3 linked regions of the Homo sapiens genome follow. The protein of the gene in region 3 purifies or fractionates together with the protein of the main gene of each other region. This does not show direct contact. Each region holds a gene or a part of one and is shown on either strand. Other genes may lie near its edges. The genes, in order: NRP1, FUT8 and PLVAP.

The links.
Region 1: the proteins of PLVAP (region 3) and NRP1 purify together in Homo sapiens (affinity purification with western blotting; one study listed by BioGRID). This does not show direct contact.
Region 2: the proteins of PLVAP (region 3) and FUT8 purify together in Homo sapiens (affinity purification with mass spectrometry; 3 studies listed by BioGRID and IntAct, with this or other methods). This does not show direct contact.

What each region holds. Positions count from the first base shown.
Region 1 is NC_000010.11:33,177,617-33,181,266, reverse strand, and holds part of NRP1 (neuropilin-1 isoform a precursor), read left to right. Parts: intron 1-901; coding exon 902-1,191; 3' UTR 1,192-3,650. UniProt on the Homo sapiens protein: Cell-surface receptor involved in the development of the cardiovascular system, in angiogenesis, in the formation of certain neuronal circuits and in organogenesis outside the nervous system. Mediates the chemorepulsant activity of semaphorins.
Region 2 is NC_000014.9:65,716,633-65,720,282, reverse strand, and holds part of FUT8 (alpha-(1,6)-fucosyltransferase), read right to left. Parts: intron 1-3,650. UniProt on the Homo sapiens protein: Catalyzes the addition of fucose in alpha 1-6 linkage to the first GlcNAc residue, next to the peptide chains in N-glycans.
Region 3 is NC_000019.10:17,356,712-17,360,361, forward strand, and holds part of PLVAP (plasmalemma vesicle-associated protein), read right to left. Parts: intron 1-3,650. UniProt on the Homo sapiens protein: Endothelial cell-specific membrane protein involved in the formation of the diaphragms that bridge endothelial fenestrae. It is also required for the formation of stomata of caveolae and transendothelial channels.

The sequences.
Region 1 (3,650 bases), on a different chromosome or scaffold from region 3:
TCTCATATTTTTAGTTTTCTTTGATTGGAATCTTTGTTGATCAGAACACCATTAAGTAAACCCCAGGCATATTGTGCGTTAACATTTTCATCCCGTTTCTAGTACCAGGTAATTAGGCTCAAAGCTCCCATGTTAACAATTTCTCCTGTTCCACTCCAAAGAAAACAAGTCCCCAGTGACTGAGCTGCAGAGCAGTGCAACTGTCTCCAGTTAAACTACCAGGGCTGCAAAGATGCTGATTATTAGTAAATGTCTTCTATTTGGCATGACAGACATGGTTTCTCGATTTGAGCCACACTCTGTTTACATGTCAGCAGCAAGCATTCTCTTGTTCTAAAAAATCACTCCTTCTTTACTGAAACTACTGTAGACTTTGGGCAAAATTCGTTTCACTTGAAGATTTTCCATATGGGAGAACAAACACATGCATAAACCATGCCAGATCCTGGAAACAGCACCACGTAGAAGGGCAGCCATGAAGGTTTTTCTTGTGCCTGTTTTGGGGTTAGGTACATGCACTGGGAATGGTAAAATCCCCTTGCTAGACTAATGTGTGACTAAGCATTTTGCAAAACTTAATGATCACCTATCTAGCCAAGGACTGTAAACACAGATTACAATCTAGGACAGATGGGGCTGCATGAAATCTGAGTTAGATGAGCAAGGAACCTCCCAGTTGATCCAGAATGGGTTGTTTCCACGTGCTAAGCAGTCTGTCAGAAGCCCCAGCGCCCACTCCCCTCTACCACCTCCCACACTTCTGTTCCCAACAATGAGTCAGATATGACAGGCAAAACTGGGGTGTGTGATTTGCTCCTGTTTCGTTCCTTTCTATTTTTCTGTCTGCTTTCATCTGGTCTGTTGGCGGTGCTCACGGAGACAATATTGTTTTTTTCCATAGGGAGCACGCCAGGATACGAAGGTGAAGGAGAAGGTGACAAGAACATCTCCAGGAAGCCAGGCAATGTGTTGAAGACCTTAGACCCCATCCTCATCACCATCATAGCCATGAGTGCCCTGGGGGTCCTCCTGGGGGCTGTCTGTGGGGTCGTGCTGTACTGTGCCTGTTGGCATAATGGGATGTCAGAAAGAAACTTGTCTGCCCTGGAGAACTATAACTTTGAACTTGTGGATGGTGTGAAGTTGAAAAAAGACAAACTGAATACACAGAGTACTTATTCGGAGGCATGAAGGCAGACAGAGATGAAAAGACAGTCAAAGGACGGAAGTGGAAGGACGGGAGTGAGCTGGGGAGCTGTTGATCTTTCACTATACAGGCTGGGAAGTGTGTTGATGACCACTGAGCCAGGCTTTTCTCAGGAGCTTCAATGAGTATGGCCGACAGACATGGACAAGGAGCTGTGTTCACCATCGGACTCATGTGCAGTCAGCTTTTTTCCTGTTGGTTTCATTTGAATAATCAGATGCTGGTGTTGAGACCAAGTATGATTGACATAATCATTCATTTCGACCCCTCCTGCCCCTCTCTCTCTCTCTCCTCTCCCCTTTGTGGATTCTTTTTGGAAACTGAGCGAAATCCAAGATGCTGGCACCAAGCGTATTCCGTGTGGCCCTTTGGATGGACATGCTACCTGAAACCCAGTGCCCAGAATATACTAGAATCACCGCATTTCAGTGGACTCCTGAAGTTGTACTTGTGTATAATTGCCCGCGTCGTGCATAGGCAAAGAAGGATTAGGCTGTTTTCTTTTTAAAGTACTGTAGCCTCAGTACTGGTGTAGTGTGTCAGCTCTGTTTACGAAGCAATACTGTCCAGTTTTCTTGCTGTTTTTCCGGTGTTGTACTAAACCTCGTGCTTGTGAACTCCATACAGAAAACGGTGCCATCCCTGAACACGGCTGGCCACTGGGTATACTGCTGACAACCGCAACAACAAAAACACAAATCCTTGGCACTGGCTAGTCTATGTCCTCTCAAGTGCCTTTTTGTTTGTACTGGTTCATTGTGTTACATTAACGACCCACTCTGCTTCTTGCTGGTGAAAGCCCTGCTCTTTAATCAAACTCTGGTGGCCCACTGACTAAGAAGAAAGTTTATTTTCGTGTGAGATGCCAGCCCCTCCGGGCAGGCAAGGGCTCTGAAGATTTGGCAACGTGGCTTAATTGTTCTGCTTTTTCTGTAGTTCAATTTCATGTTTCTTGACCCTTTTGTATAAAGCTACAATATTCTCTCTTATTGTTCTTTCATATGGAATGTATTTTCAAATGTAAACTCTCTTCTCTTTCTCTCTCCTATCTCTCTGTCTTTTTTCTCTCTTAGAATTGGAGGATTTGCCATTGTCCAGGAAAGAAACTTGCAGCTTTAACCTGCTGGGAATGGCAAACGATTTTACTAGACTTTATGTTTAAAAATAAATAAATAAGGGAAATTCCTAACTTTGCCCTCCAAAGTCTAACTTTGGTTTTCTTGTTAACTGGTTAAAGTGACAGTATCTTTTTTCCTTATCTATTCTATTCAAAATGACCTTTGATAGAAATGTTGGCATTTAGTAGAAATAGTGATAAGTTGAGGAAAGAAATAATACAAATTGGCTTTCAAGTGAGACCCAAAGGAAGAACTGGATAAAATCTTCCAAATCCAAAAGCATGAGATTTTTCTATCCAAATATGCAAAAATGACCCAAGAGAACTTTCTTATTTTGCTACTGAGTCACACAAGGGAAGTGGAAGGAAGAACAGTTAATTTAAGAATGAAACTATAAATCCTGATGCCTGGGGGTCAAGTATTTTAAGATAAGAGGGGGAAAAACACATAAAGTCAAACAAATGTTTTAAAAATTCATAACAGCAACCTTGAAAAAATAGACTTAAATGAATGCTTCTAGAAACTTCCAGCGGCTCACAAAGAATAAGCCTGCCTTAGGGCTGGCAACATCTAAGCCTCTAACAGCACAGGGAAGCAAATATCTTACCAGGCAGCCTATGAATTAACCCAAAGAAGCTTTGGTTGGTTTTGGTGGATTTTTATCATGCCATGTTGGACATGAGATTTTTTAGATCTTCCTTCCCACATTGCTAGACGTCTCACTCAAAGACATTTGTTGGGAGTCACATTTGCATCATAGACGAGACAGTCCATTCATCTTAGTTAAATTGGATTGAGAATGCCTTTTGTTTCCAGGAAAATATTGATCACCATGAAAGAAGAATAGTTTTTTGTCCCCAGAGACATTCATTTAGTTGATATAATCCTACCAGAAGGAAAGCACTAAGAAACACTCGTTTGTTGTTTTTAAAGGCAACAGACTTAAAGTTGTCCTCAGCCAAGGAAAAATGATACTGCAACTTTAAAATTTAAAGTATCTTGCACTGATAAATATATTTAAAAATTATATGTTTATAAAGTTATTAATTTGTAAAGGCAGTGTTACAAAATGTTCAGTTTATATTGTTTTAGATTGTTTTGTAATTTTTAAAGGTGTAAAATAACATATTTTTTCTTTATGGAAATCTATAAAACTTTCTGTAGTAAAATGTTTTCATTTTACTGGTATATTATTGCTTCATGTTTTGTACCATCATAAGATTTTGTGCAGATTTTTTTTACAGAAATTATTATTTTCTATGACAATATGACACTTGTAAATTGTTGTTTCAAAATGAACAGCGAAGCCTTAACTTTAAATGACA
Region 2 (3,650 bases), on a different chromosome or scaffold from region 3:
ACCGTAGCCTGGCAATAATCCCTGTGGGCTTGTAGTGGTGGTGGCCATAGGGAGAGACTCTTTTGCCTATGAAAAGAGGAGTGAAAAGTGGGAAGCACTTTGCCTTATGGTTTGGATGCCAGCTCAGCTGCAGGAGAATAGAGGACCAGATAGGGTTCTAAGGTTTCCAACTCCAGATGCTGGCTCCCAGATGGCATCTCTGGACCTGCCTGGGGCCCAGGGGAACTTGCTTGCTGTCCTGAAGGGATGGATAAAAGCCTGACTGGCTTTGCCACCTGCTCATTATAGAGCCCTAGAACTTTGAGCCAACACAGGAGGTAGCCAGGTAGGGGTTACACTGGGCCTTGGGTGAGATCCAGTGCTATGCTGGTTTCAGGTCTGGTCTAGTGTAGTTCCAGTGGTGGTAGCCACAAAAGTGCTTGTGTCACCACTCCCCCAACTACAAGAGGCTTGGAGCACAGAATCAGAGACTCGTTTGTTTGGGACAAAGTAAGGGAAGAGAACAAGAGTCTCTGCTTGGTAATCCAGAGAATTCTTCTAGACCTTATCTAAGACCACAAAGGTAGTACCTCTGCAAGTCTGTAAGAACCACAGCATTATCGGGCTTGGGGTGCCCCCTAATGTAGATATGGCTGCAATGACCAAAACTGGATCACAACAGCCAACTCCCTTCAAATATCTGGAAAGCCTTTCTAAGACAGGTACAAAAGAGTTCAGATTGTGAAGACTACGATAAATACCTTCAATGCCCAGACACCAATGAACACCCACAAGCATCAAGACCATCCAGGAAAACATGGCCTTGAAAAACAAACTAAATAAGGCACCAGGGACCAAATCCTGAAGAAACATAGATATGTGACCTTTCAGAGAGGGAATTCAAAAGAGCTATTTTGAGGAAATGCAAAGAAGTTCAAGATAACACAAAGAAGGAATTCAGAATCCTATCAGATAAAGTTAACAAAGAGGTTGAAACAATTAAAAGGAATCAAGCAGAAATTCTGGGGTTGAAAAATGCAGCTGACATACTGAGTCTCTTAATAGAAGTCATCAAGCAGAAGAAAGAATTGGTAAGCTTAAAGACAGGCTATTTGAAAATACACTGTCAACAGAGACAAAAGAAAAAAGAATGAAAAACAATGAAGCATGCCTATAAGATCTAAATAATAGTTTCAAAAGGGCAAATCTAACAGTTATTGGCCTTAAGAAGGAGGCAGAGAGAGATAGGAACAGAACGTTTATTCAAAGGGATGAAACAGAGAACATCCGAATTCTAGACAAAGATATCAATATTCAAGTACAAGAAAGTTATACATCAACCAGATTTAACCCAAAGAAGACTACCATTCAAGGCATTTAATAACCAAACTTCCAAAGGTCAAGGATAAAGAAAGGATCCTAAAAGCAGCAAAAGAAAAAATAAATAACATACCATGGAGCTCCAATATGTCTGACAGCAGACTTTTCAGTGGAAACATTACAGGCCAAAAGAGAGTGGTATGACATAAACTACTGAGGGAAAAAAAACTTTTACCCTAGAATAGTATATCCAGTGAAAACATCCTTCAAGCTTAAAGAAGAAATAAAGACTTTCCCAGACAAACAAAAGCTGAGAGATTTCATCAACATCAGACCTGTTCTACAAGAAATGCTAAGGGGAATCCTTCAATTTGAAGGAAAAAAGGTGTTAATGGGCAATTAAAAAATGATCTGAAGGTACCTCACTGGTCATACTAAGCATACAAAAAACCACATAATTTTATAACACTGTAATTGTGGTATGTAACCTATTGATATCTTAAGTAAAAGACTAAAAGATGAACCGATCAAAAATAACTACAACTTTTCAAGACATACTTGGTACCATAAGATATAAATAGAAATAACAGAAAGTTAAAAAGTTGGGGGGACAAAGTACAGAGTATTTATTAGACTTCTTTTTGATTGCATGTTTGTTTATGCAATCGGTGCCAAATTGTCATCAGTTTAAAATAACGAGCTATAAGTTATTTGCAAGCCTCATGATAATCTCAAATCAAAAAACATACAATGAATACACAAAAAATAAAAAGCAAGAAATTAAAACAAACCACCAGAGAAAATCACCTTCACTAAAAGGAAAATAGAAAGGAAGGAAAGAAGGAAGAGAAGACCACAAAATAACCAGAAAACAAATAACAAAATGGCAGGAGTAAGATCTTACTTATTATTAATAACACTAAATGTAAACAAACTGAATTCTCCAATCAAAAGACATAGAGTGGCTGAATAGCTAAGAAACACAAAATTCAATGATCTGTTACCTACAAGAAACATACTTCACCTATAAAGACACACAGACTAAAAATAAAGGGATGGAAAAAGATATTTCATGCCAATGAAAACCAAAAAAGAGCAGGAGTAGCTATACCTGTAATAGACAAAATAGATTTCAAGAAAAAAAAACTATAAAAAGGGACAAAGAAGGAGGTGAGGAGCGCCTCTGCCTGGCCGCCCCGTCTGGGAACTGAGGAGTGCCTCTGCCAGGCCGCCCCGTCTGAGAGGTGAGGAGCGCCTCTGCCTGGCAGCTGCCCCGTCTGGGAAGTGAGGAGCATCTCTGCCCAGCCGCCCCGTCTGGGAAATGGGGAGCGCCTCTGCCCGGCTGCCCCGTCTGGGAAGTGGGGAGCGCCTCTGCCCGGCCGCCCCGTCTGGGAGGTGAGGAGCGTCTCTGCCCGGCCGCCCATCGTCTGGGATGTGAGGAGCGCCTCTGCCCGGCCGCCCTTCGTCTGGGAGGTGAGGAGCGCCTCTGCCCGGCCGCCCCGTCTAGGAAGTGAGGAGCGCCTCTGCCCAGCTGCCCTGTCTGGGATGTGAGGAGCCACCTCTGCCCAGCTGCCCCATCTGGGAGGTGAGGAGAGTCTCTGCCTGGCCGCCCCGTCTGGGAAGTGAGGAGCGTCTCTGCCCGGCTGCCCTGTCTGGGAGGTGAGGAGTGCCTCTGCCCGGCCGCCCATCGTCTGGGAAGTGAGGAGCGCCTCTGCCCGGCCGCCCCGTCTGGGAGGTGAGGAGCGCCTCTGCCCGGCCGCCCCGTCTGGGAGGTGAGGAGCGCCTCTGCCCGGCCGCCCCGTCTGGGAGGTGAGAAGCGCCTCTGCCCGGCCGCCCCATCTGGGAAATGAGGAGCGCCTCTGCCCGGCTGCCCGTCGTCTGGGAAGTGGGGAACGCCTCTGCCCGGCCGCCCCATCTGGGAAGTGGGGAGCACCTCTGCCCGGCCACCCCGTCTGGGAAGTGTGGAGCGCCTCTGCCCGGCCACCCCGTCTGGGAAGTGTGGAGCACCTCTGCCCGGCCGCCCCGTCTGGGAAGTGGGGAGTGCCTCTGCCCGGCCGCCCCATCTGGGAAGTGGGGAGCGCCTCTGCCCGGCCGCCCCGTCTGGGAGGTGAGGAGCGCCTCTGCCCGGCCGCCCCGTCTGGGAAGTGAGGAGCGCCTCTGCCCGGCCGCCCCGTCTGGGAAGTGAGGAGTGCCTCTGCCTGGCTGCCCCATCTGGGAGGTGTACCCAACAGCTCCAAAGAGACAGCGACCATCGAGAACAGGCCATGATGATGATGGTGGTTTTGTCAAAAAGAAAAGGGGGAAATGTGGGGAAAAGAAAGAGAAATCAGATTGTTACTGTGTCTGTGTAG
Region 3 (3,650 bases):
CACTGTGGGAGGCTGAGGTGGGTGGATCACCTGAGGTCGGGAGTTCGAGACCAGCCTGACCAACATGGTGAAACCCCGTCTCTACTAAAAAAACAAAATTAGCCGGGCGTGATGGCGCATGCCTGTAATCCCAGCTGCTTGGGAGGCTGAGGCAGGAGAATCACTTGAACCCAGGAGGTGGAGGTTGCGGTGAGCTGAGATCGGGCCATTGCACTCCAGCCTGGGCAACGAGAGAGAAACTCCGTCTCAAAAACAAAAAAACAAAAGAAGAAGAAGTAAGAGTGGAGGCCGGAGGGGGTGGCTTATACCTCTAATCCCAGCACTTTGGGAGGCCAAGGAGGGCGGATCACTTGAGGCCAGGAGTTTGAGACCAGCATGGCCAACATGGTGAAACCCCAAAATTTTTACAAATTTTGTAGAAAAAGATACAAAAATTAGCCAGGTGTGGTGGTACACTCCTGTAATCCCAGCTACTCAGGAGGCTGAGGCAGGACAATTGCTTAACCCAGGAGACGGAGGTTGCAGTGAGCTGTGATTGCGCCACTGCACTCCTGCCTAGGAGACAGAGTGAGAGTCCATCTCAAAAAAAAGAAAAAGGAGTGGAAAAGGAAAAATCAACTCTCCCGATGCATGAGGTGGGTGATTTAATGCTGAGTCTTGTCCCAGCACCTCATTAGGTGCATCTAAAATTCTAGTGACTCAGCTACTTGGGAGGCCGAGGCAGGAAGATCACTTGAGGCCAGGAGTTCAAATCCAGCCTGGGCAACATAGCAAGACCCCTGTCTCTACAAAAAAATAACAATTTAGCTAGGCATGGTGGAGTGTACCTGTAGGCTCAACCACTGGGGAGGCTGAGGCAGGAAGATTGTTTGAGCCCAGGAGTTCGAGGCTGCAGTGAGCTATGATCGTGCCACTGCACTCCAGCCTGGGTGACAGAGCAAGACCCTGTCTCGAAAAAAATAATGATTAAAAAAATAAAATTCCAGTGACTCTCCCCAAGTTGCCCAGTTAACCCAGAGCAGACAGCCCCAGCCCACTTGCCCCCGGCCTCTCTCAGGGGAAGGCGAGTCAAGGGCAGAAGCCAGCAGGCCAGAAGCCCTTCCTGCGACCGTGAGGAGAGAAGCAGGCAAGGTCCAGGCTTAAGTACACATTGTTTTCTCGGCAGGTGGACGTCATTTCGGGGTAAACAATGTCAAGAGCTTCCCTGGTTCTCAGCCGAGGCCCTGACAGTCCTGGGCTGGGAGCCCGGGCCTGGCCCTGATTCTCCACTGTGTGACCCCAGGCTGCTCACTTCCCTGGGGCCTCAGTTTCCTCCTCTGAGAAGTGGGGATAATAATAGAACCTCCTTCCTTGCCATGAGGGCTTTCGGCCAAGATGGAGAGAGGAAAATTGTGTTTGCTTGGAGCGGGGAATCTCCTCCTCACCTTTTTGTTTCCCTCCCTGTGGGCTGCTCAGGGCTGAGAACTTTCTCCCAGACAGAGCCATCTAGAGCAAAGGGGTTGAGAGACAGCTTGGCGAGGGAGTGAGCTCCCTGTTGGAGAGGGTATGCAAGAAGGAAAAAAAAAAAAAAGAAGAAGAGGTGGAAATGGAGCTGGACATGATGCATCCTGGGGAGTTGGCGGCAAAGCTTTCGGAAATCTACTTGGCCAGAAATCCCATATTAGCCCTCTGAGGCTGCAACAGACCCAGAATGACAATAGCTCCGTGGCAAAATGGTCATAGGCACAGTGGTTGGGGTCAAAGGGATCTGACTTAAAGTTCTGGTGCCTTCCTGAGCCTCGGGTCCTAAACTGCAAACAGCAATGCCAGGCCCTGACTCCTCCGTCAGTGGTGTAGCAGGACCCCAGAGAGAGCACAGGCTATTCTTGGGGCGGTGGCCTGAGTCACCATCCCTGTGACGCACAGGCCACCCTCTGAGAAGTGACTGACTCTGGGAGGAGGCAGGGGGCACAGGCAGCAAGCCATGACCTGAGCGTGTGCCAGGAGCCCTTGCTGCTTCCTACAGAGGCCCCTAGTCCCTTGCTCCGGTCATTTTTGGATGGCACCTTGCAATTAGCAAAGCATTTCCAGGCCCTTGACTTCAGAGACTATCTTTTTTTTTTTTCCAAGACAGGATCTCACTCTGTCTCCCAGGCTGGAGTGCAGGGATGCGATCTTGGCTCTCTGCAGCCTCCACCTCCTGGACTCGGGCGATCTTCCCACCTCAGGCTCCTGAGTAGCTCGGACTACAGGTGCGCACCACCACACCTGGGTAATTTTTGTATTTTTTGTACAGAGGGGGTTTTGCTATGTTGCCCAGACTGGTCTTGAACTCCTGGGCTCAAGCAATCCTCTCACCTCGGCCTCCCAAAGTGCTGGGATTACAGGTGTGAGCCACAGTGCCTAGCTGAGACTCTTTTTTATTTATTATTTTTATTTTTATTTTTTGTTGCCCAGGCTGGAGTGTAGTGGCTCAATCTTGGCTCACTGCAACCTCCACCTCCCGGGTTCAAGTGATTCTCCTGCCTCAGCCTCCGGAGTAGCTGGGATTACAGGTGCCCACCACCACACCCGGCTAATTTTTGTATTTTTTTTTTTTTTTTAGTAGAGACAGGGTTTCACCATGTTGGCCAAGCTAGTTTTGAACTCCTGAGCTCAAGTGATCCGCCCGCTTCAGCCTCCCAAAGTGCTGGGATTACAGGCGTGAGCCACTGCAACCAGCCTCTCTTTTTTTGAGACAGAGTCTTGCTCTGTTCCCAGGCTGGAGTGCAATGGTGTCATCTCGGCTCACTGCAACCTCTGCCTCCCGGGTTCAAGTGATTCTCCTGCCTCAGTCTCCCAAGCAGCTGGGACTACAGGCGCATACCACCACGCCCAGCTACTTTTTGTATTTTTAGTAGAGATGGGGTTTCACCATGTTGGCCAGATGGTCTTGATCTCTTGACCTCATGATCCGCCCACCTCGGCCTGGGATTACAGGCGTAAGCCACCGTACCCGGCCTCTTTTTTTTTTTTTTTTTCTGACACAGTCTCACTCTGTCGTCCAGGCTGGAGTGCAGTGGCATGATCTCGGCTCACTGCAACCTCCGCCTCCCAGGTTCAAGCAATTCTCCTGCCTCAGCCTCCTGAGTAGCTGGGATTCCAAGCATGAGCCACTGTGCCCAGCTGAGACTCATTTTCTAGAAAGTAAAGGTCAGGATTCATTCCTGGATGCCACTCCCCCTTCTCTCCCTCTGCTCATTACCTTCCCTCACCCCCGTCCAGCCTCCAGGCCTTTGGCCTGGCTGTTCCTGCTGCCTAGAACACTGTTCCCCCTGCTTTCCCTGAGGCCAGCTCCTCATGCTCCAGCTCTTCCTCACCAAGGCTCTCTCTTGCCTGTTTGGGGTCCGATGGCCTGGGTTCATGTCCCAGCTCTGCTGTGCTCCCTGGGGTACAGGGCATGCCCTCTCTGTGCCTCACTCTCCTCATCTGGAAAGTGGGTAGAATAGTGGTTTGCCCTACTATTATTGTTAAGTTGTGAAGATTACATGAATTAATCTTGCAAAGTACTTAGAACTGCGTGGGGCTCCCAGTAGGTGCCTAATAATTGTAGGCTCTTTGGTAGTCCCATCATGACACTGTCTAACCCACTACTCAGGGAGTTTCATGAGGACAGGACTGGGTGTGTCTTG